3 separate regions of the Homo sapiens genome follow, and regions 1 and 3 are each linked to region 2. Evidence: fine-mapped expression QTL. A gene starts in region 2. Each other region holds a variant in brackets. All regions are shown on one strand. Distances are from middle to middle. Region 1 holds the start of PEX6 (peroxisomal biogenesis factor 6). Region 2 holds the start of MEA1 (male-enhanced antigen 1). Region 3 overlaps TTBK1 (tau tubulin kinase 1).

Region 1 (8,142 bases), 35 kb before region 2:
TGAGGTAGCAGACCTGAAAACCTCTCCCTCTAATGGGTACCAGGAAGAGAATATCACCTCCTATCCCGACTCTGGCTCCAAAAAATTTTCTCAGTAAAGATAACCTTTCTGTGACACTTTCAACTTGGCCCAGAGCCAGTGAAATGGTAAAGACATTTATTCCCACAAGACCTATTAGTGACACCAGGCATCCACAGGGATTAACATTAAGTGGTCATTAGTGGGGAAACTGAATTCAGGCTGTGGGAAAAGCTGAACGGGTTGGTTCAGTCATTGGTTGGTTCAATGAGCTCTACTCTTGAGTACCCCAGTAGTTTTTCCTCCATTCAGGAGGAAACCTACATCCACTCCCTTTCACATGTATTTCACATGTATCTCTACCTGACATCCCAAAGTATTAACTGGTTACTCTAGTACTGCCCAGTAGAACTCTCTACAATGGAATAGTCTATATCTGCATGTGCTATTGAGCACTTGAAATGTGGCTAAAAACAAAACAAAAACAAAGAAATGTAGCTAAAGCAACTAAAAAACATGATTTAGTTTTTTTTTTTTTTTTGAGACTTAGTCTCACTTTGTCGCCCATGATGAAGTGCAGTGGCACAGTCTCGGCTCATTGCAACCTCTTCCTCCTGGGTTCAAATGATTCTCTTTGTGCCTCAGCCTCCTGAGTAGCTGGGACTATAGGCATGTGCACCACCATGCCTGGCTAATTTTTGTGGGTTTTATTTTTTTCTTGAGATGGAGTCTCGCTTGTCACCCAGGCTGGAGTGCAGTGGCACCATCTCGGCTCACTGCAAGCTCCGCCTCCTGGGTTCAAGGGATTCTCCTGCCTCAGCCTCCAGAGTAGCTGGGACGACAGGCATGTGCCACCACACCTAATTTTTTTTTTTTTTGTATTTTTAGTAGAGACGGGGTTTCACCGTGTTAGCCAGGATGGTCTCAATCTCCTGACCTTGTGATCTGCCTGCCTTGGCCTCCCAAAGTGCTGGGATTTAATTTTTGTATTTTTTAAAATAGAGATGGGGTTTCGCCATGTTAGCCAGGCTTACTTTATTTAGTTTTAACTAAATTTAAAAATTTAAAAAGCCACAAAGTGGCTGGTGGCTTCCATATTGGACAGCACCATCTAAACCATATATCTAGGTCCTTAATTAAACACTATACTGTATTTGTCCCCCTAAACACAACTTTCATTTTTTTCTTTTTTTGAGACAGAATCTTGCTCTGTCACCCAGGTTGGAGTGCAGTGGTGTGATCTGGGTTCACTGCAACTGCCACCTCCCAGGTTCAAGCGATTCTCCTGCTTCAGCCTCCCCAGTTGTTGGGTTTACTGGTGTGCACCACCATACTGGGCTGATTTTTGTATTTTTAGTAGAGATGAGGTTTCACCATGTAGGCCAGGCTGGTCTCGAACTCCTGACCTCAAGTGATCTGCCTGGCTCAGCCTCCCAAAGTGCTGGGATTACAGGCATGAGCCACTGCGCCTGGCCTTTTTTTTTTTTACACAATGAAGGTTTATTTTTTTGTCACTCTTATGTCTGTTATGGCGAACTGGTGAGTCTTTACTCAGTAACCCATGGAAATGGAACAACTATTATCTGTTCTACAACTTTCTTCTTGAAGTAAAGGCAGAAACCAAAAACTTTCCTTGGATGTATTTAATAAAATATTAAAACTAAACACCAGGCACCAAAGATAATAAAGACTCCTTTCCTTCAAGGTATTTACAATATATAATTGGGGATTAAACAGATTATGTAATCATAACAAGATAGAATAAAATAAATGCCATAAAAAAGATAGAAAATGCTATAGGAGGAAGTTCTAAATTCGTGGCTGTGAGATCATGAAAGGCTTTGTGATAAAGGTGTCATCTTTAGATGGCTCTTGAGGGAAAGGAGGGTAGGATTTTAACAGATGAGGCTAGAATAATAGGAAACAATTTGAAGTCAAGGATAAGAATGAGCAAAAGCACAGAGACATCATCCTCCATATTATAAAGCACAATACTGAATACATTGTAGCAATTCAATAAACTAATTAGATTGAGTAGATTAACATACACATCTGAAACCTCACTTTTTTTTTTTTTTTTTTTTACACAGAATTTCGCTCTGTCGTCCAGGCTGGAGTGCAGTGGTGTGATCTGGGCTCACTGCAACCTCCACCTCCCAGGTTCAAACAATTCTCCTGCCTCAGCCTCCCAAGTAGCTGGGATTACAGGCATGCACCACCACACCCAAACTTCACCTTTCACCTGAATGGATGAAAGCCTTTTGTATGCCCCACTACATTATGGAGGCTTATGATATTTTGATTACAGAATATGGATCAATAGGCCGGGTGAGGTGGCTCACGCCTGTAATCCCAACACTTTGGGTGGATCACCTGAGGTCAGGAGTTCGAGACCAGCCTGACCAATACGGTGAAACCCCGTCTCTACTAAAAATTACAAAAATTAGCCGGGCGTCGTGGCGCGAGCCAGTAGTAGGAGGCTGAGACAGGAGAATCGCTTGAACCTGGGAGGCGGAGGTTGCAGTAAGCCGAGATCGCATCACCACATTCCAGCCTGGGTGACAGAGCAAGACCCCATCTCAAAAAAAAAAAAAAAAAAAAAAAAAGGAAAGAAAGAAAAAGAAAATAGATAAATGAGGCTAAGAAACATTATGCTTTTTTTTTTTTTTTTTTGAGACAGAGTTTCACTCTTATCGCCCAGGCTGGAGTCCAATGGCGCGATCTTGGCTCACCGCAACCTCCGCCTCCCAGGTTCAAGCGATTCTCCTGCTTCAGCCTCCCAAGTAGCTGGGATTAGAGGCATGCACCACCACGCCCGGCTAATTTTACATTTTTTTAGTAGAGACGGGGTTTCTCCATGTTGGTCAGGCTGGTCTCGAACTCCCGACCCCAAGTGATCCGCTCGCCTCGGCCTCCCAAAGTGCTGGGATTACAGGCGTGAGTCACCGCGCCCGGCTAGAAACATTATGTTCAAAGTCCGGGATGATATGGGGCACGAGTCCTAAATCTTCCAATTTACCTAAGACAGAGAAGAGGGTATAAGAAAGAGGAAGCACTCCTGACCCCAGTCCTTTATCCTACCTGAATTCTGAGCTCTCCCATTTCCAGGGGGTCACAGCCAAGATTAAAAGCCAAAGTGGCAGGGACAAGCGCCAGTCCGTCAGCGAGGGGCTCTCCCAGCGGTCCAGAGCCGGGTCCCAGTCTATCAGAGAGGTCCCAGCGAGGTTCTAGGACCTGCACCCTAGCCAAGTGCGGCTGTGAAGTGTTCGATGACTCTCTGGCCTGGGCCACCCACACCCATTCGCCCTGGAAGAGGCCAAGGCCACGGAGACAGCTCCGGCTCACCCCTAGTGAATCTCCAGTCCCTCCCAGAACTCCCTGGAGTCGCCGCACTGTGCCAGAAACCGCAAAGGAGGACACCACGGGCGGGGGTGGGGGCCGACTGCTGTCCCCAGACTCTGGACACAGTCTGGCCCGCCCGCGGAGCTCAGTCACAGCCAGCCGAGTCCCTGGGCCCAGCAGCCCTTGCAACGCCGGCCGCGTCTCCAGCACCCGCGGTCCGGGCACTGGGAGGGTCTCTCCGCGCCTCACCAGCAGCGGCCCGACTCGCGGTCCGAGCCCAGGCCCCAGCGAGGTGCCAAGCAGTGCCCAACCTAGCGCCGGGGGCCGCCGCACCGCCCGCGCCCGCACCCAGGCCCCGGAGCCCAGTGCCAGGAGCCGCAGCAGCGCGCGGCTAACCAGTAGCTGCGGCGGCCCGGGACCCTGCTCTTCGGTGCCCGCGTCCGGCCCCTCCAGGGCTGCCACCAGCAGCGCCGGCCCTGCCGGGCTCTCCCCTGCAGGCCTCAGGGCCAGCACCAGGCCCAGCTCCGCCGCCGGCCACGGGCCCCCGGGTGGCAGCAGCACTGCCAACGGGGGTGTCTCGGTCGGAAAGGGCTCCAGGACCCGCAAGACAGCCAGCGCCATGGTGACAGGACACCAACGAGGAGGGTGAAGGAGCGCAGCTTCCGGAGCCAGAGAGCCAGACGACTAGTGTGCGCGAGGGCCGCTTCCGCTTCCGTCAGGGGAGGCCAGAGGAAAAGGGGAGGGGGGTCGGGTGCCGCGAACTTGCTCTGAGGGGGTTAGCTGCGCCTCGGATTGATCTGCGTCGTGCCTCGATAGGCAGTAACCTTCATCGCTGCGGTTGCGTAGCGTTTACCCATGCGCCATTTGAACTTGTGCTTAAGGGATTTATCTTTGCCTTCTACGGAAGTAATGTTCTCTTAACTATTTTTCCCCGTGGCATGAACGTAACAGTTTATTGACTGATAAATGAACAGTCAGCATGCTCGGGATGACTGGGCCCAGTACTGGGAGCTCTAGGTGAAATGTTTCGGAAGGAGTCCGCTCCTCTGCGGAGCTCCTGCAGCTTCCCCTGTGGAACTGTGAGCACTGAGGTTTGAGGGTTGCAGGAAAGGTTGCAGGAGGGAGTAGCAGGATTAGAAAACTGTCTCACACTTGCTTATAGGTATATAGTGGCTGCTGAGTGAATTACTAGATGTGATTCATACAGCCCTGGAGTGCTTGGTGCCACCACACATGTTCCAGCACATCTGGCACAAAACCCATGTTCCAGGACTTCTTGCCCTGTTCATTGTTCTGTTTGTTTTACTCCCACCAAACTTAAGTTGAAGACAAAACAGCTTTTCTTTCACCCCCCCCCC[C/CCCCG]CAAATCCTTGCAGATCGGAAACCCATTCACTTTCTATCCTAGAGCGGGGCAGGCAGCAGAGCAGGCAGAAGGAAAGGAGTTCAAGGCTTCTGTCAGCATAACACCAACAGTCGACTTCCTGCGTGTGCTGTTATTTAGATTCCATCCTTCTCTTCACCTCCACTGTTCTGTACAAGACACTCAGCTAGTGGTAGGCCACATTTCCTTTTTTATGGCAACAGGGTCCTACTCTGTCACCCAGGTTGGAGTACAGTGGCACGATCCCCATTCATTGCAGCTTCTACCGTCCCAGGCTCAAGTGATCTCCCACCTCAGCCTCCCGAGTAACTGTAGCCGGGACCACAGGCACACGCCACCATACCCAGCCAATTTTTTTTTTGAGACGGAGTTTCGGTCTTGTTGCCCAGGCCAGAGTGCAATGGCACGATCTCAGCTCACTGCAATCTCCGCTTCCCAGGTTCAAAGAATCTCCTGCCCCAGCCTCCCAAGTAGCTGAGATTACAGGTGTGTGCCACCACACCCAGCTAATGTTGTATTTTCAGTAGAGACGGGGTTTCACCCTGTTGGTCAGGCTGGTCTCGAACTCCTGGCTTCAAGTGAGCCACCTGCTTACGCCTCCCAAAGTGCTGGGATTACAGGCATGAGCCACTGCGCCTGGACTAATTTTTTATTTTTTGTAGAGACAGAGTTTCTCTGTGTTGCCTAGGCTGGTCTCAAACTCCTGGTCTGAAGAGATCCTCAGGCCTCAGCCTCCCAAAGTGCTGGGACTACAGGCATAAGCCATCATGTCCCACTGCATTTCCAATTATTAACAATTATTTTCACTTACAATAAATGAATTGGATGGTGCCAATCTCCATTTTCTAGACCTTACATTCTCTTTCAGCTACTGCTCAGCTTTCTCCATCTCTCCTTTCTTCTTGAGGCAGTCTTCTATTTTGTACATTATACATTCCTGAAAATTTGAAAGACAAATATATGAAAACTATTAGATTTGCATATTATAAGGGGCTGGGCGCAGTGGCTCATGGCTGTAATCCCAGCACTTTGGGAGGCCAAGTGGGTGGACTGCTTGAGGCCAGGAGTTTGAGACCAGCCTGGCCAACATGGTGAAACCCCGTCTCTACTAAAAATACAAAAATTAGCTGGGTATGGTGGTGTGTGCCTGTAGTCCCAGCTACTCGGGAGGCTGAGGCAGGAGAATGGCGTGAAGCCGGGAGACAGAGCTTGCAGTGAGCCGAGACTGCGCCACTGCACTCCAGCCTGGGTGACAGAGTGAGATTCCGTCTCAAAAAAATAAATAATAGAAAAAAATAAATAAAATAGCATGCAAGAATGTACTAACCAGGAACCATGGCTTGTGTCTATAATCCCAGCTATGGGGAGGCTGAGGCAGAAGGATCACTTGAACCCAGGAATTTGAGGCTATGATTGTGCCACTGCACTCCAAGTGGGTGACAGAGCAAGACCTTGTCTCTTAAAATATATAAAATTAAAAGAAAAAAAAACTAAATAAAGAATGTTCTAGGTACCTAGATTCACATGGATGAAAGTTCCCATTTGGTAGTGCTACTATATGTTTCTTGGTCCCCTATGTCCCAGAGGAACCAAGGGCTAGATAGATGGTACATGGGCCTAAAGAGGATATGCCTGCTTTCCTCAGTAGCAGGCAAGCTCTAGGCCTCAGGACTATAGTGCTCCTTGAGGCCTTGGAGATGGGTAAAAACATCAGTTATCTTGCCTGGATCAGCACTCATACAGACACAAATACCCACCCACAAATAAATGTCCTTTTCTCCCAAGCTTTTCTCCCAGCAGGTAACAGCGGGCATGTAGTCCACTTTGTGTTACCCTGAAATCGTCATTAGTCACCGAAAGCCAAATACTACTTCTGTAAGATCGCCAGGACCCTACATTTGCCATCTTCACTTCCTCACCTCTTGATGCTCACTCTTCCACTCACTAAAAACGGTCTTCCACTCTCTGAAAAAATCACCCATAATCTTCTAATTGCAGAATCAAGATGATGCTGTTCTTTCTCTGACACTACTGACCAATTGTCTTTTATTTCCTTTGCCATTATGACACCAGTTGTCCTCCTACAACTCTGATCACTTCCAGAAATCATCCTCAACTCTTCCCTTTCCGTTACCGTCCCCCCCACAATACAATGAATCACCATATCCTGTTGATTCTACACATTTTCATGCTCCATCCTCTCTTCTCCATCCCCACGGCCACTGTCTTGTAACATTGCTCTCCTGGGTACCTGGGTAAGGGACACAGGTTTTGTGTTTTTTTTTTTTTTTTTCAGATGGAGTCTTGCCCTGTCGCCCAGGCTGGAATGCAATGGTGCGATCTCGGCTCACTGCAAACTCCACCTCCCGGGTTCAATGGATTATCCTGCCTCAGCCTCCTGAGTAGCTGGGATTACAGGCACCCACCGTCATGCCTGGCTAATTTTTGTATTTTTGTAGAGACGGGGTTTTGCCATGTTGGCCAGGCTGGTCCTGAACTCCTGACCTCAGGTGATCCGCCCTCCTCAGTCTCCCAAAGTGCTGGGATTACAGGCGTGAGCCACTGCGCCTGACCTTTTTTTTTTTTAAGACTAAATATTTTATTTTATATAGAATTTTAAAAATTTATTTTTTGTACATGAATAAGTTCTTTAGTGGTGATTTATGAGATTTTGATGCAGCCATCACCCAAGCAGTGTATACTGTACCCAATGTGTAGTATTTTTTTTTTTTTTTGAGACGGAGTCTTGCTCTGTCGCCCAGGCTGGAGTGCAGTGGCATGATCTAGGCTCACTGCAACCTCTGCCTCCCGGGTTCACGCCATTCTCCTGCCTCAGCCTCCCGGGTAGCTGGGACTACAGGCGCCTGCCACCACGCCCGGCTATTTTTTTGTATTATTTTAGTAGAGACGGGGTTTCATCGTGTTATCCAGGATGGTCTCGATCTCCTGACCTCGTGATCCGCCCGCCTCGGCCTCCTAAAGTGCTGGGATTACGGGCGTGAGCCACCGCGCCCGGCCTCCATTGTATCATTCTCATGCCTTTGCATCACAGGTTTCTTCTTTTTTTTTTGTAGACGGAGTCTTGCTCTGTCGCCCAGGCTGGAGCGCAGTGGCATGATCTCGGCTCACTGCAACCTCCACCTACCGGGGTCAAGTAATTCTCCTGCCTCAGCCTCCTACCGGGTTCAAGTGATTCTCCTGCTTCAGTCTCCCGAGTAGCTGGGACTACAGGCGCGCGCCACCACGCCCCGCTAATTTTTGTATTTTTCATAGAGGCATGGTTTCACCATGTTGGCCGGGATGGCCTCGATCTCTTGACTCGTGATCCGCCCACCTCGGCCTCCCAAAGTGCTGGGATTACAGGCGTGAGCCACCGCACCCTGTCTAATTTTTGTATTTTTAGTA
Region 2 (8,173 bases):
TTTGTGAAAACCATGAAATGCCAGTCTCAAACCAGGTGATTTGGCCAGAGCTCTCTTCTGATACTGCACAGAGGTTTGTGAACTGGAAGTAGTAAATGACAAAGCTCTTAGCAGAGATACCCCTGTGAGAGAACAAATTGGGTTCCTCACGCTAAGGGCAGGCTCTGGCCTCCTACACCTCATCTTTCTTCTTGGTGGCAGGACAATCCATGGACTGATCTATAATGCCCTGAAGTTGTTTATGGAAATGAATCAGAAGCTGTTTGATGACTGCACACAACAATACAAGGCAGAGAAGCAGAAGTGAGTATCTCTCTCCCCGGGAGACTTTCATCTTCTACCACCAGCTCACTGTGTTTCTCTCAAGCCCAACCCCAATCCTACTTTTGCTCCTCAGGGGCCGGTTCCGAATGAAGGAAAGGGAAGAGATGTGGCAAAAAATCGAGGAGCTGGCCCGGCTTAATCCCCAGGTGAGGTTTTCCTGCCACTGTTGTGAACTGAGGGGCCAGCCCATCTTGAGCTGGGGGAGAGTTTGTTGGGGGAGGAATATGGGGCACACAGGCCCCCAAGCCTCTGAAGTGGCTCTTAACGCTTGTCCATGTCTCCTCACTCAGTATCCCATGTTCCGAGCCCCTCCACCACTGCCCCCTGTGTACTCGATGGAGACAGAGACCCCCACAGCTGAGGACATCCAGCTTCTGAAGAGGACTGTGGAGACTGAGGCTGTTCAGGTGGGAGGGCAATGTAGGGGGATGGAGCAGAAATAATAGCTCTGGAAGGGAGAGGAGACAGAAACAGCAGAGCCAAAGAATAAGGGGACGGAACAATAGAATTCACTGGGAATTGGTCACCATTCCTCACCTTGTCCCTATTCACACACAGATGCTAAAAGACATCAAGAAGGAGAAAGTGCTGCTGCGGAGGAAGTCGGAGCTGCCCCAGGACGTGTACACCATCAAGGCACTGGAGGCGCACAAGCGGGCGGAAGAGTTCCTAACTGCCAGCCAGGAGGCTCTCTGACCCCTCACGTTCCTACCACAGGGCCACAGCCCACACAGCCCTGGGACACTGCCCTGGCCCTCCATACTCTGCTCCCTACTGGCTGTCTTGGGGGAAGGCAGCGCCTCTCTAGCTACTCAAGGGAGGGGGATGTGGGCACTTGAAGCAGGGACACCCACAGAATGGTCCCTCTTCTCCCCAAAAGGTGTTCATGCCTCCCTGTGGCTAGTACAGGCTGAGCACTAAGATGCTTAGTGCTCAGACAACCTGGGGATGCCTGTCCCCTACCTGCTCCTCACCCACAGCTACCTGAGGCTGCTCTGAGAAGTACACACAGGAATACATACGCTCCTCTATTCTTCCCTTCATCCTCATTTGAACGCCAGGTATCTCCCCTCCTCTCTCTCCCCTGCAGAGGCATGTAGGGAACAGCAGGAGATTATTCTCACCAAAGTTATGTCAAGCCCCATTGGTCCCAGAGTAGCTGAAGGGAAGCCAACCCCCCTGCAGCACAAATAGGCCCCCCAGTCCCAGCCGTGTGCTGGCAGATAGGGTTGTATTATTTCTTCTTACCCCATGCCTGACCAAGGGAGGTCAAAAGGAGAAAAGTATAGGCTGTGGACAATAACTGATGAATATAGGGCCCAGATGGACCAAGTGGGGCCGGGGAGGGATGAATAAACACCCTACCCCGTGCCCTGTCTTTGGTGAGCAGCAGCCCTGGGGTCACAGACATGGAAGGGACCACCCTGGGGCTGACTGCTTTTCTGTGCTGTTGGTTCCCAAAACTAGAAAGAAGGAAGCAGGGAGCGGTGCCCCAAGCATGGCTCCTGCCAACACCTATTTATTTCCTTGTTTGTGCTATGCTGGGCAGGCCTTCTCTTGTCCCTTATAGGTACCTTGGAGGGGCCAGGGGCTGAGGAAGGCCGGACCCAGGTTCCAGGGGCGCAGGCAGTGCGGCTTTTGGCTGTGTACATAGGGTGCTTTATTCTCCACAGAGTGATACATGCTAAGGTGGGTTGGGCTTGGACCGATGTCCCCATATGTACAGAACTGAATAAAGTGGGTCTCTGAGAAGTCTGATGTGCCTTGATGTGGAAAGGGAGACGGGGAAGATGGAAATGGACATTACAACCAGGGATGTGTTCAGTCCTGTGCTGGTTCTGGCCTGGAATGTAGGAATATAAGGCAGCTCTCACTGTGGTCACTTCCAGGCAGGGGATGCCTGCCGGGCTTGGAGGGCTTTCTGTACCACATCTTCCCACTGGGCATCCGATATCTCCCGAGCCCAGGCAGGAACCCCTGGCGCAGGCAGGCTTACTCCAGCCATTGTCCTTTTCACCAGCTCTACATGTTCTGAAATCAGAGCCAGAGGCCATTCAGGCATAGAAATAATGGGACCAGCTCCCCTCCCCAATCCCCGAATCAACCCAGAGCCCTTGGGCTGCTAGGGTCACCAAATCCACCTTGTTACTTTAAGGCAAGCCTGCCCATCCCCAAAGCTAGCAAAAGAGCATTTCACTTGGACTCTGAAGTCTACAAAATCTTAGTTTACAAACTATCTTTTTAGGATAGGGTCTTCCTCTGAAACTTCCTTCTACTGACTCATGCCAGTTCATTTCCTTAGTAATTATTCCAGAATGAAAGAATGATCTTTTACCTGGGTCCATGGGAATAGAGCTGTGGTTGTTCAACGCTGTAGCTCCCTCCTCATCTTCATCTTCACTCTCTAATGGTGGGTCTGGCAAATGAAGCCCCAGGGCCTGCAGAGCCACAGAAGACCGTTTGGGTCTAGGCTTTCAGGGAGCCCAGCTTCACCTGTTCAGGAACCATCCCTCCTCCACCCTACCTGGATTCGATCCTGGATGTCAGCAACTACATCTCCATCCCCCACTGGTGCCAGTTCCACCTCCTCTTGTTCAGGATCTTGGTTCAGGGGCTGGTAGGAGTAGCCAGCTGGGCCCGACCCCGTTTCCTCCTGCTCTTCCTCAGGCTCCTCACTGCTCCAATCCCCAGTGCCTTCTGAAGGGCCCTGATGTCCCAGTTCCTCAGTCTGATTGGGGAAGATACGCTCAGGGCCCATGGTGTCTCCTCCTAGAACTACTGTTGCCATCCGGGCAGGGGCTGCAAGAACAGGGAGGCGGTAGGACAGGGATCGGATGAAACCAGGCCCATCTTCATCCTCTCATCATCTCCTTGTAGTCTCCTGCGTGCAAAAAACCAGCTCCTCCCCGAGGCTCCTGCATCCTCCACCCCTCCGCCCCAATTCCAGCCTCTCGTTCCTCCCCCTCCTAAGTCGGGGTTCTTATCTTGAACCAGGCCCCACCAACTTGCTCCGCCACTTCCTAGTTAAACGCCCAACCGGAGGCCCTGCCACCTCCTAAAAGACACCCCTTCCAGAACCCCGGCTCCCCGCGCCACGCCTCCCCCGCGACTTGGGAACTCTGGGTCATCAGACTCCCCTAAACAGGTCGGCGTACCCGCCCCCTTCTCCCCTCTCCTAGAGGACCCCCTCTGTACCGCCTGACAGATGCCTTTCAGGCCCCATGGGCTCCCCTCAAATGGCCCCAGCTGCAGCGTCCCCCACCCGCCCCCATCCGAATCCCGGCGCCGGTGTTCCCGCGCGCCTCACCCGCTCAGAGCCCGCGGCCTCCACTTCCGGCGGGGCAGGACGTGCAGAGGTGCCTAGTCCTCCAGCCCCGCCCCATATCCATGATTGACGCTGGCGAGGACGAGGAGTCCGCCCCTTGCCCCGCCTCCGTCATTCCCAGCCCAAAAAACAAAGGACTGCATTACCCAGTGGCCTCCTCGGTCTCGACACATATTTGCACATGCGCAGAATCTCTCCTACGCCCCTGCCCACTCCTCAGCCCTCTCGTCCCTCAGGAAACGTATGGACTACAAGTCCCGAAATGCCTCCGGCACTTAGCTACGACTGCACGTGCGCGCACAGCTGCCCGCCGGAAGAACCGAGCTTGGCTGTGTTTATCTCGTTGGGGACTAAGGCGTCGGTTGGCGCGCAACGGGTTCTAGGCTGCAGGCAGCTCGAGGACCCGCGGCCCCGCCCCGGCTCGGCCTGGCAGGTAGCCTGGGATGGGTAGAAGGGCAAGGGAGAATTAGGGGGCTTAGGACGTGCTGTCTGGAGCTGGAGTGGCGGGGGAGGGGCCTGAGAGTGATGAGGTGGGGGTGGGGAGGGAGCTAGGGGGATGATGGGAAAGGAGAGTGTTAATGGGGAAAGCAGGGCTAGGGGAGGATGGCGAGGAGATGGGTAGGAGAGACCTGGTGTCTGGAGGAAGCAATGAAGGAAATGGGAAGGAAGACTGGGCCATGAAAACAGGGAAGCTGAGCATAATGGAAGGGGAGGGGTGTCTGGCGTGGTGGGCTAGGGGAGGCCGGAATGTCTGGAAGAAGACAGGGATAGAGTCATATGCAGAGAGGGGTATCGTGGTCAGTGCATGCTAATTTTTCTTTCCTTAGTGGAGGTGGGAAAATGGAGGGCTGTTGGGTGGAGCTTGGAATGGTAGGAGAAGGAAAAATGAGAAAACTGCAAAGCTCTCACGAGATCAAGAAGGGCGAGAAATGGGGAATAAAAAATGCAAGAGACCAGGCGGGTAGATACATTAAGGGAATAGAAGAAGTTTGAAAATGCTTGGTGGTGATGGAGGACTGGGGAGACCCAGGGATAAGAGGAGCCCCTGAGCGCCTGGGGGCTTGTTCTCCTTGAATTTGAGTTGTTTATATGGCAGAGAAACTAAAATTTTTTTTCTCCACCTTTGGCTGGAATTGCTTATCTCCTCTCCTGTGCATATTTTACTTTACCTTGACATATCTGAAGGGAAGAATAGAGAATATAAGGGAGGATGGAAGACTTCCATTCTTAAGCCCATCGACCTCCTAACAGTCTCCACAAGCCCAGACCCAAGATATTTTGGAGAGCGGGAGTAATGAAGTGAGAGTAGCTTCCTGCTGGGGCTATTTCAGGATGGGTCCCATGGCTATTTAAAGCTTAGGGTGTGGAGTTGGGGGAGGTTGGGTGGGTGGGACTAGCAAGCCAGCTGAAAGCCATGTCTCTTTCCTGCAAGGGGCCTCCCTTATTTGAGCTGTTTTAGTGCCTGAGGTTTTGCCTGGCCCTTTCCTCTGCCAGGGCTTCTTAAACAGGGAGCAGATGATGATACACCCAAACTCAGGAGATGCTTGCCAGCAAAAGCATTGTCAGTTGCAAGGATTTGCCTGAAAAAACCTCAGATGTACCCAGGTGTACGTGCCACTAGGTTGACAGGTTGTGTTTAAGAGACCATGACCAGCTGGGCATGGTGGCTCACGCCTGTAATCCCAGCACTTCAGGAGACCGAGGACGGTGGATCACCTGAGGTCAGGAGTTTGAGACCAGCCTGGCCAACATAGTGAGACCCCATCTCTACTAAAAATACAAAAATTAGCTGGGCATGGTGGCAGGCGCCTGTAATCCCAGCTACTTGGGAGGCTGAGGCAGGAGAATCGCTTGAACCCGGGAGGGAGGCAGAGTTTGCAGTGAGCTGAGATTGCACCATTGCGCTCCAGCCTGGGGGCAAGAGCGAGACTTCATCTAAAAAAAAAAAAAAAAAAAAAGACCATGACTTCTCATGCTGGATCTTTCTCTTGTCCTGCCCAAGGGCATTTTTTGCCTCCCTTCCCCTTTTTTTTTGTTTTGAGACAGAGTCTCGCTCTGTCGCCAGACTGGAGTGCAGTGGTGTGATCTCGGCTCACTCCAACCTCCGCCACCCGAGTGCAAGCAATTCTCCTGCCTCAGCCTCCTGAGTAGCTGGGACTACAGGTGCGCGCCACCGTGCCCAGCTAATTTTTGTATTTTTAGTAGAGACGGGTTTCACCATGTTGGCCAGGATGGTCTCCGTCTCTTGATCTCGTGATCCACCTGCCTCGGCCTCTCAGGGTGCTGGGATTACAGGTGTGAGCCACTGTGCCCAGCCCCTTCCCCTTTGCATTGCACACTCCCACCTCTATCCGCCTTTCAGGAACCCAAGTTGTGGAAGAGCTTGTTCTCTCTTTTCTACTGGAAATGGCTTGTTCTCTACCACAGTAGCAGGGATGGGGAAGTGGCAGGAGGAGAAAACCCCTCCCTCTATCACCATCCCCCAAGCCTAAGCATACACATACCTTTCTGGCTTAAGTCCTGGCAGCATACCAGGCACAGCTGTCAAAGGAACTCCTTGTGCCTGTGGGGGGCCCTGGGTGACCCCAATGACAACAACTCAGCTTGACAGGAGCTCCCTGTGAGGGGCTAACCAACCGCGGTAACATGGAGGTCCCTGTCCTGGATCAGTCCCGCCCTATCTTGGGTAGGGGGATTGTTCCACTCTAAAAGCCTGAAAGCTTTTCTGCTTTGAGGCACTCATGCCAGCTTTCAATGGACTGTTTGAGGCTGGCTGGGCTATTAATAGCTGTGAGTATTTTGAGATCCCTTTCCCCACCTCAAAGAACACAGATTCTTAGAGAGGTGGCAGTAAGCAGAGCAGAGACAAGAGAATATACCGTTTGGGAAGGGGGCTTCAAGTTTGTGCCAAGCCAGGGACAGAGTGGAGCCTCCACGAGTAGGTTGTGACCATGATATGCAGATTCTGAGCTGGCAATCAGGTGGGGGTGGCCCCACCCTTCACTGTTGGAGAACACTGGGCCCAGGCTGCTCCCTGACCTCGGCAGCTCCCTTGGGGCAGGGCCAGCCACCTGAGCTGAGACTAGTGCCCCTGTGGAGGGGTAGTGTGGGAGGGCCCCCAGGGTGACACTTGGAGGCAAAGGCTGGTTCTGGGCAGAGTCACAGTGAGCTGGGCAGAAGCCTCGCCTGAGGATCCCGTGGCCCCAATTTGTGTGCAGATAGCAGAGGCAGCAGGCCGTGCCGGGGGGGCATGTTGCTGTAACCAGTGGCCCAGGGGATGTTACGGTGGACAGTGCACCTGGAGGGCGGGCCCCGCAGGGTGAACCATGCTGCAGTGGCTGTCGGGCATCGGGTATACTCCTTCGGGGGTTACTGCTCTGGTGAAGACTATGAGACACTGCGTCAGATAGATGTGCACATTTTCAATGCAGGTAAGCCAATGCTGGGGCTGTCCCTGGGTCCCCACATCAGGGTGGGAACGGGCTGCTGATGAGGTTTGGCTGTGGTCTCTGGGACCAAGGGGATTGGGGACAAACATCTGGTTTGGGAAAAGTGGACAGCCTGGAGGGAGGTTCCCAGGGCTGAGCAGAGCTGTGCCCACAGTGTCCTTGCGTTGGACAAAGCTGCCCCCGGTGAAGTCTGCCATCCGTGGGCAAGCTCCTGTGGTACCCTACATGCGCTATGGACACTCAACCGTCCTCATCGACGACACAGTCCTCCTTTGGGGCGGGCGGAATGACACCGAAGGGGCCTGCAATGTGCTCTATGCCTTTGACGTCAGTGAGTATGGATCTCAGAGAGGCTATGTCCTTCCAGATGTTGCCTCAGTTGCCCAAGAAAGGTTTGGGTTGGGGGTCTTGGGGAGTAGAGTACCCCAGAGCTGAGGAGGGACTGTCATAGAGGGTGCTTAGTTGAGCCATTTTCTCATCTCCTTCAGATACGCACAAGTGGTTCACACCCCGAGTGTCAGGGACAGTTCCTGGGGCCCGGGATGGACATTCAGCCTGTGTCCTAGGCAAGATCATGTACATTTTTGGGGGCTACGAGCAGCAGGTAGGTCTGGGAATAAAATAAGAGGTTTAGGGTGGGACTGAGAAAGAGGGGAAGGGCAATTTAGGATGGTGAAATGGGAGGCTTTGGCTTGTTTGCAGGTTTTGAGGGGAGGGATGGAGGGTCAGAGAGTGACCATTGGCTCCCTCTTTTCTTCCTCCTTTTCTCTTCCTACTCAGGCGGACTGTTTTTCCAATGACATTCACAAGCTAGATACCAGCACCATGACATGGACTCTTATCTGTACAAAGGTCTGCTCTTTCTTTTTTTTCCCAAATCCCCACCCTCTGTTGAAGCAATGATAGGAAGCTCAGTCAGAGGAGATCCTCTTCCAGTCTTTGTGCTGACCCCTCCACCATCTCTCTGCCTCTGCCCAGGGCAGCCCTGCACGCTGGAGGGACTTCCACTCAGCCACAATGCTGGGAAGTCACATGTATGTCTTTGGGGGCCGTGCCGACCGCTTTGGGCCATTCC
Region 3 (8,173 bases), 270 kb after region 2:
CGTCGCCCCGCCTTCGCGCCCGTTTTCGTTTGCTTTTCCCTGCTGCTGGCTGGCGGCCTTTGGGTCCCTGGCCCCGGGGCGGGGGCGGGCTGGAGTGGGGCTCCCCTCAGTGCTGCCAGGCTGGGGTGCGGATGGGGACAGGCGGAGGCGTTCGGCTAAGCCTCCAGGCTCGGAGGGCCCTGTCGCCCCACCCCTGACTCCCGTTACCTCACTGCCCGTCGGGCTGCCCCCCACCCCGCCCCAATAATTGGCCTTGCAATTGGATGCCAAAGAGCCCAGAGTTGAGGGGGAGCAGAGCTTTGAGCCCAGGTCTCTCAGAGCAACCCAACAGCCCCCTTTTTGCCCACGCCCCAATCCGCGTCCCCTGCCCCACCCCACCACTGAGGGCCCTGGGGGTCACCAAACATGCCCCCCCATTTCCAGCTCTTCCCACACCCCCACCCCCGAAAATAAAACTCAGGGACCAACATCTGCTTCCTTTGCACTTGCTCCGTCGACCCCGCTCCCCGCTCGGAGGGGCTTCCGTGGGGGAGGGGGCGGGGCTCCGGGCCCTCAGAGTTCTCAGTGTCGAGCGAGGAGAGGGGCTGGCCCCTGCCCCCGGAGAAGCGGGACTGGTAGGAGAGAGAAACTCAGCACCGGGGCCCAGCTGAGCCCCTTCCTGCGTAAGGAGACGCCTTCTAATTGCGGGGTGGGGGCGGAGTAGGGGAGGGATAGGAAGGGGATTAGCGAGAGGACCCTCGCGGAGGTCCTGAGTCCCAGTCGGTTTATTCCTGAGCCTTCCCCTCCCATCGTAAGTCCTTCCCTCGACCCCCCATTTTGTACTGCAATAATACTGTATTATACGCTTGCACTATTTCCCGACCCTGGCCAGCGGAAGCATGCACGAAAAACTCAAAACCACACACACGCTCACACGCACACACACGCACACGAAGATGGGACGCTTTTTTTCTTCCTCTCTCTCTCCGGGGTGCGTCCTCCTTAGTGTACATAGCGGCGTCGGGGGGTGGCCCCAGGCCCGGGTAGAAAAGCATGCACTGAGCCCCCTGCCCCTAGACTGCGAGTACTGTACAAATCCAACACTTGAAACCGACACGCACACGCGCGGCGCCGCCACGGGGGTGGGACACGGACACGCACCCACGCGCACACGGCCGCGCACGGGCGGGGAGGGGGCGCCCCGCCGTCACGCGTCGCTGTGCGAGGGATTTTGTGCCTTTTTAAGTCCCTGTATGTTAATGCAGACAATCCGGAGAGCTTGTGTACTACCAAATCCTGATTAAAGACGCCTTCCAGGAACCTGCGCCTCCGCCTGCTTTCTTTCACCCTCCCCCTTCCTTTCCCAGCTCTCAGTGTAGACCCTGGCTCTGAGGTCGCCGGGCTGGGCAGAGGGCAGGGGTTAGTCTGTTGCTGACTCTGGGACTGAGGGGTGGGCAAGTTCTGGGTCAGTGGATGAGCTTCGTCCACACCTTAGCCAGGCAGCTGGGTGAGGAGGGCACCCCAGAGGTTTGGGCCTAGTTGGACTTGAGTCACCCTTGCCCTGCTGGCAGTCTCCTTTCACTGAACGGGTGGGGAGGGAAGGGGTGAGTGGACTCTGGTCTCTGGGACTCAGCTCCAAATTGCCAACTTCCGGGTGGGGATGGAGGGTGTGTAGAAGTAGGGGGCTGGGCCCACCAGGCCCAGTGATCAGTTCTGTATGGGATCAGGCTTTTGAGACCAAGTGTCTGGTGGGACTAGAAAGCTAGGATGCCAGAGGCCTGTGAGAGGACACTGTACTGAGGAGCCTCCCACTGGCCCTCTGCTACGATGGGCAATCTGAGAGATATGGGAGATGCAGCCCTGGCCTTGGGGGTGCCAGGGTGGGGGTGGCCCGCCAAGGAGGGACACTGGAGCATGGACTGTGAGAACCTGGGGTTGGGGGTGCAGGGATGGAACATGGGTTGAAGGAGAACTCAGTCAGTGGGAGGGGTGGGCCACTAAGAAGGAAATAATGGCAGACTTCTGAGACTGGAGAGAGAGGGGAAAGGTGAGGAGGACAATGTAAAAGAGGAAGGCCCCCCCATACCTCCACCCCATCCCCGCACACTGCCAACCAGAAAGGCAAAGGGGCAAGCTCCAGCTGCATTCCCAAAGCCCCGGGGCATTTAGAAGACGCCCCCCACAGGCTGTCAGCTCCTCGCCCTGGGGCAGGCAAGGGTGGGTTTTGGACACAGAGATGTGGGGTCAAGTGGGTGTGGTTCTGCATAGACCCAGGGTAGGTGGCCACGTTCCCGGGTCATCTTACCCCTTCCGCCACCTTCCCCTTCCCCGGCATTCCTGGGTGTGGGGTGGAGTGGAGGGAGGGCTCTTGGCTTGGCAGAGACGTTTGGAGAGTGGTGGCACAGACAGACAAATGCAAGTGAAGGGTCTGGGAGAGGCGGTGCTGAGTGCGGAGCTGACAGAGGTGATGCAGGCACATCTCATCTCCTCGCAGGTGGAGCAGGGGTGTTGGGGGTGCTTCTTCCCTACTGGAGGAGAGGAGGTGGGAGGCATGCACGAGGCAGTTTCTGAGAGAGGAGGAGGAACTGCTGTGAGAGGCACAAGCCTCCGACCTCAGCATAGGAGGAGTGGGGAGCCAGGGCTCACCCTCCTGCTTTCATCACACATCGCCTCCCAGCCCCACATCTTGGACTTTGGGACTGTGGGCCGGGGTGCAGTGCCTGAAGTCTGGGGCTGGCTGGGGTCCAGGCAGGAGTGGCTCCATGCACCCTGTGTGGGGGTTAAGGGTGGGGCTATGTGGAGCCCCGTCTCCAGTGTCGGTGTCAGAGAAGTTTCCCCAAGGGCATGAGAGCCCAGTTTTGTTGGTGGCAATTGAAGATCAGAGTCTGGTCCATCCTCTCCCTTCACTTTTCCTCCTAACTGGAGTAAACATGGACTTGGGCTGGGCTCTTGAGCTGGTGAGGCCTAGCCCTCTAGATGAGGCACAGTGCATGGAGGGGAGGGGCTGGGGCTTTCATTCTCTCTGAGGGTATCAGTTTGATTGGCCTGTCCTCCTCCTCTCCCCACAGCCGAACCCTTACCATATATGCCTTTGGCTGAACTCTGAATCACTAAGGAGCTTTAAAACAGCCAGATTTCTGGGCCTCTTCTCTGACCTACAGAATCTGGGGGTAGGATCCAGGATTGTGTATTTTTAAAAAGCAACTCTGGACAATGTTGTGCCAAGCCAGGCCTGGGAACCACAATAAGCAGATTAGAATCATAAAGGTTGCTGCCCTGAGAAGGAAGCAAGAAGGTGTGAATTTTGTCAGACAGCTAAAGAGCCACGCACACTGACGGTGTCTGTGGATCACTGGCTGAGTGAATGAACTCAAGATCAAATGGGCAAATGGATGAATAATTCACTGGGCATTCAGGAGAGGCAGGGAGACGGTTAGGCTACTCTCTGAGGAGGGAGGAATTTGAGCCCAGCCTCTGCCCCTCCCCAGCACAGAGCCAGATGGGGGAAGGGCAGAGGGACTTTGAAACCGAAAAGCCAGCATGCCTAGGTTGGTGTGGGGGTGGCAGTGATCCTTAGGGCAAAGTTGTCCTCACCCTGAGATTCAGGGCTCTTCCTCCCAAAAGGCAGAGGGTTCCAGGTGTCCCCATGTGGGACTGAGTGGGAGACACTGGAAAGAGTTTTGGGTCCTGGGCCACCCTGGTGGATGTGCTTCATAACCTGGACCAATGCCCAAATCCATGCCCCTCTCTGTGCCTCAGTTTCCCAGTCTGATTTTATGACTGATCATTGATTTCCAGTTCTCATTCCTCCTCTCTCCCAGGTAATAGGAGGGGAGGGCTTGGAGGCAGGAGAAAGGGTTCCACCTACAACCATCCAATGTGAGCACTGTGTGTGTGTGTTGCGGGGGATCCCATCCTCTACATGGGGCCTTTTCAGAGAGATCCAGGGCCTGGCCAGAGAGCAAAGGAAAGGGTGTCTCTAACCAAGGTGCCAGGGATTAGAGAGGGACAATAGGTAAAGGTTCTGAGGAGAATGGGTGGCCTGGTGGAGTTAAAGGCCATCCCTACTGGGCAGGATGTGCTGGTGCCAGTTGGGTGAGTTCAGAGGTGGTTGGGAGAGAGACATGCTCAGAGCTCTCTGTCTGTCTACCTGTCCCTGACTCTCAGTGCCAGCACCCACCCACCCCATGGTCCCCACTCATCC[G/A]GGAGCTTACAGCAGCCCCTCCACCTCTATCCAGCCATTTTCTCTAGCCATAACATTGGTGACTGGCAAAGTGTCCCAGCACAAGGCCTGGCACACAGTTGGTGCTTAGTGTTTGCTAAATGAATGAATGGATTAATAAGAACGAATATTGTGCAGAAAAAGTAAATTCTTCTGGACACTTCCAGCCTATATGTGGAGGGGACAAAGTTTTTTGTTGTTGTTGTTGTTGTTGTTGTGTTTTTTGAGACAGTGTCGTTCTGTTGCCCAGGCTGGAGTGCAGTGGTGCGATCACAGCTCACTGCAGCCTTGATCTCCTCAGCCTCTCGAGTAGCTGGGACCACAGGCGTGCACAACCACGCCCAGCTAATTTTTGTATTTTTAGTGAAAACAGGGTTTTGCCATGTTCCCCAGGCTGAGGGGACCCTAGCAACCCTGTTTGAGCCAGGTAGGGAGCTTTCTGAGAAAGCTTTCTAAGAAAACTTTCTAACTAAGAAAAGTTTTCTAAGAAAGTTCCCTACCTGGCCCAAACAGGGTTGCTGGGGTCCTGCTGGAATCTGAAGCTATCTTCTTGCATCACCCCCACCAAATCCTCACTGATGGTCTGATTACAGGGAAGATCATGGCAGTTGGGAAGGGGAGCAGCCACAGCCCTGGACAGATCCTCAGCCTTGGAGGTCTCTGCCTTCCTCTCCACCAGGCTTTGTGCTATTTGCATGGAGGCTTCGGCTGGCAGAGCCCCCTCCTTTCCCCACACGCTATTCCCCATAGGTGTGGCATCCAGGCTTTTCTGGGGTTGGGGAGGGGGCCAATGACCTCCAAACCAAGGTGAGCAGAGCAGGAGGTGGGAGGTAGGGGTGGGAGAGAGCTAACATTTATTGAGCAACTGCTATATGCCTTTGCTTATATGACCTCATTTATGATCACAACCTTTGTGGAATGTGCATATCCCCACTTAGTTTCCTGATATAGAGAAAATAAGGACCATCTCTATCTTGTTCATACTTGATCCACAGATTCTTAGACTATAACATGGTGACCAGGACAAGAGACATTCAAAGACCACTTCTTGAGGGAGTAAATGAAGAAACCCTCAGGGATCTCTGTGTATCAGGAGAGGGAACCCTATAAATACACGCATGTAGGACAATAGGTGGGAGATTCTCTCACAGAAGGATGTGGAAAACAAGTAGAAAAGGGAGAATAAGTAAATCTGCTTGGTGGGTGGACAGGAAAGTTGACAGGAAGGCTTTGTCTCCTCTTTGCTAAGACCAGGAGCTGTTTGAGCTGGTCTTGAAGGAAGGGTAGCAAGTTATCATGTGCAGAGAGGAGGTGAGAGGAGCCCCCAGGTGGAGGAAACTGCCTGGGCTAAGTGTGAGCTGGAAGATGCACTTAGGAACTTCTGGAAGCATCGGAATGCGTGGAGTGTAGGCAGGGGCAGGGGACGGAGGGTGTTGCAATAAGTGAGACCAGAGCAGCCAGTAGTAGCCAGGTCACAGGGCTGGGTGGGGGATTCATGGGCCAAGTCAAAGATCTGAACTGTCTTAGGCCAGGCGTGGTGGCTCACGCCTGTAATCCCAGCACTCTGGGAGGCCGAAGCGGGTGGATCACCTGAGGTCAGGAGTTTGAGACCAGCCTGGCCAACACGGCGAAACCCCGTCTCTACTAAGAATAAAAAAAAATTAGCCGGGCGTGGTGGCGGGCACCTGTAATCCCAGCTACTAGGGAGGCTGAGATGGGAGAATCACTTGAACCCGGGAGGCAGAGGTTGCAGTGAGCCGAGATCGTGCCACTGCACTCCAGCCTGGGCGACAGAGCAGGGCTCCATATCAAAAAAAAAAAAAAAAAAGATCTGAACTGTCTCCTAAGGACTGTGGCAGCCATAGCAGATTTGAAGCAGAGAGAGATGGAATCAGATTAAGTTTCAGGAAGATCACTCAGGCAGATGTAAAAAGGATGGACGGCAGTGCAGAATGGAGAGAACAGGCCGGTGGCTGGGGAACCACCAGGAAAGGCAAGGCTGTGCTCGTGGGCCTGGGGTAGCAGACACAGAGAAGTTTAAGAAGGATGCTTGGCAGGACTCCTTGGCAGCGTAGATGGGCAGGAAAGTGGGGAGGCAGGATATCCCCGGGGCTTCTGGTCTGGATGGGCTGTGTTCGGCTAGCTTAGGAAGACAGAAGCCCAGCGTGTTCGAAAATGCTAGCAAAGTGCTGGACATCGTCAGCACCGTCCCACCATGGAACAAAGCTGTGTCAGCCCTGATGCGCCCAGGGCATTGCGGGTGCCTGGGGATGTCTGTGTATTGAACAGGGTGGAGCTAGAGTGAAGGAGACACAGCAGCCAAGGTCCTGACCAGGTGGTCAGACCTTTCTAGTCTGGAAGGAAGGAGGCTAAGGGGGACATGGCAAGAGTCTAGAAAACCAAGGACTGCTTTGTCCATCACATTGCCAAGGGCTCTGCACAAAACTTTGAAGAGGAAAATGGAATGGAGCTCAAGTATACCTGTCGAGGGCTGGACAAATTCCTGGCTGAGAGGATGGATTGGAGGTCGAGGGGCCCAGCCTGCACTTTTAAGGGTAGAGGACAGCCCCGCCTTTGCCCTTGTCCAGCACAGGATCTGGTGGCCCTGGGCAGCCAGCTCTCTGGCCACAGAGAAACTGCACACCCTGAGGTGGTACTGAGGGCATCTAGGAGCCAGCCCGGCACAGCCCATCCAGGAAGTGGCACAGATACTTGCCGCCGTCTCTGGACCTGGCTTTCTCATCTGTAAAAGGAAGGGCTGATCTGCGTGGTGGTCGTGGTTCCTTCCAGTTTTCATTTTCTGTTATTGTTGCTGACTCGGGTGCAGGATGCACATGGCGATGAGAGGGGCTGGGGACATAGAGAGGCTGGGAGGCAGAAAGGCCACCAGGATCAGGGCCTGGGACTTCAGGGGACCTAGAGCATGGACAGTCATTCATCAGAGGTTTCCTGAGCACTCACTAGGCGCCAGAGACCATTCTAGGCCCTGGGGACAGAGCAGTGAACAAGACAGACCCAGTGCCTGTGCTTAACTTTATGGAGCTCACACTCTGGTAGACGACCTGGGCCTGTGAGTCTCCTAGGTTGTGGGTGCAGCTGAAGTCTTCCTGGGCCCAGGAGGGTGGGTGACCTCAGAGGGTCCCTGTGTATGCCCCTTGCAGGTGTTCTCCGTGGCGCCCCCATTTGAGGTGAATGGCCTCCCACGAGCTGTGCCTCTGAGTCTGCCCTACCAGGACTTCAAAAGAGACCTCTCCGATTACCGAGAACGGGCGCGGTTGCTCAACAGGGTCCGGAGGGTGGGCTTCTCGCACATGCTGCTCACCACCCCCCAGGTCCCACTGGCTCCTGTTCAGCCTCAGGCTAATGGGAAGGAGGAAGAGGAGGAGGAGGAGGAAGATGAGGAAGAGGAAGAAGAGGATGAGGAAGAAGAAGAGGAGGAAGAGGAAGAGGAGGAGGAAGAAGAGGAGGAGGAGGAAGAGGAGGAGGAGGCTGCAGCGGCAGTTGCCTTGGGGGAGGTGCTGGGGCCTCGTAGTGGCTCCAGCAGTGAGGGGAGTGAGAGGAGCACTGACCGGAGCCAGGAGGGTGCCCCGTCCACGCTGCTGGCAGACGATCAGAAGGAGTCCAGGGGCCGGGCCTCCATGGCCGATGGGGACCTGGAGCCTGAGGAGGGCTCCAAAACGCTGGTGCTTGTCTCTCCTGGCGACATGAAGAAGTCGCCCGTCACTGCCGAACTGGCCCCCGACCCCGACCTGGGCACCCTGGCTGCCCTCACTCCTCAGCATGAGCGGCCCCAGCCCACGGGCAGCCAGCTGGACGTATCTGAGCCAGGCACCCTGTCCTCTGTCCTCAAGTCTGAGCCCAAGCCCCCGGGGCCTGGGGCAGGGCTGGGGGCCGGGACAGTGACCACAGGGGTCGGGGGCGTGGCAGTCACCTCCTCACCCTTCACCAAAGTTGAGAGGACCTTTGTGCACA

What was found. PIP is the estimated chance that this variant, and not a neighbour inherited with it, causes the effect.
Region 1: its variant is fine-mapped to the expression of MEA1 in whole blood (INTERVAL, PIP above 0.99).
Region 3: its variant is fine-mapped to the expression of MEA1 in whole blood (INTERVAL, PIP above 0.99).

What each region holds. Positions count from the first base shown.
Region 1 is chr6:42,975,170-42,983,311 of GRCh38, forward strand. PEX6 (peroxisomal biogenesis factor 6) reads right to left here and starts at 4,012. Exons shown (of 17, transcript NM_000287.4): 1 at 3,100-4,012. The coding sequence starts at 3,981. It overlaps LOC124900215 (a long non-coding RNA gene), which reads right to left. Exons shown (of 2, transcript XR_007059580.1): 2 at 5,373-5,674. RefSeq lists enhancers at 3,272-4,213, 4,374-4,423 and silencers at 3,584-3,963, 4,618-4,814, 6,053-6,271. The variant C/CCCCG (reference allele first, on the strand shown) is at 4,719.
Region 2 is chr6:43,010,267-43,018,439 of GRCh38, forward strand. It overlaps MEA1 (male-enhanced antigen 1), which reads right to left and starts at 3,680. Exons shown (of 4, transcript NM_014623.4): 1 at 3,520-3,680; 2 at 2,849-3,123; 3 at 2,660-2,762; 4 at 877-2,355. The coding sequence starts at 3,547. The coding sequence ends at 2,204. It overlaps PPP2R5D (protein phosphatase 2 regulatory subunit B'delta), which reads left to right. Exons shown (of 16, transcript NM_006245.4): 13 at 202-303; 14 at 398-470; 15 at 615-731; 16 at 883-2,076. The coding sequence ends at 1,020. It overlaps KLHDC3 (kelch domain containing 3), which reads left to right and starts at 3,983. Exons shown (of 11, transcript NM_057161.4): 1 at 3,983-4,082; 2 at 6,868-7,080; 3 at 7,253-7,429; 4 at 7,587-7,702; 5 at 7,879-7,950; 6 at 8,077-8,173. The coding sequence starts at 6,927. RefSeq lists enhancers at 1,348-1,848, 3,812-3,931 and a silencer at 3,552-3,601.
Region 3 is chr6:43,275,365-43,283,537 of GRCh38, forward strand. TTBK1 (tau tubulin kinase 1) reads left to right here. Exons shown (of 15, transcript NM_032538.3): 14 at 7,363-8,173. Among named protein-coding and RNA genes, the nearest start is that of SLC22A7, 19 kb to the right of the region's middle. RefSeq lists a silencer at 1-173 and enhancers at 1,913-2,568, 2,569-3,223. The variant G/A (reference allele first, on the strand shown) is at 4,184.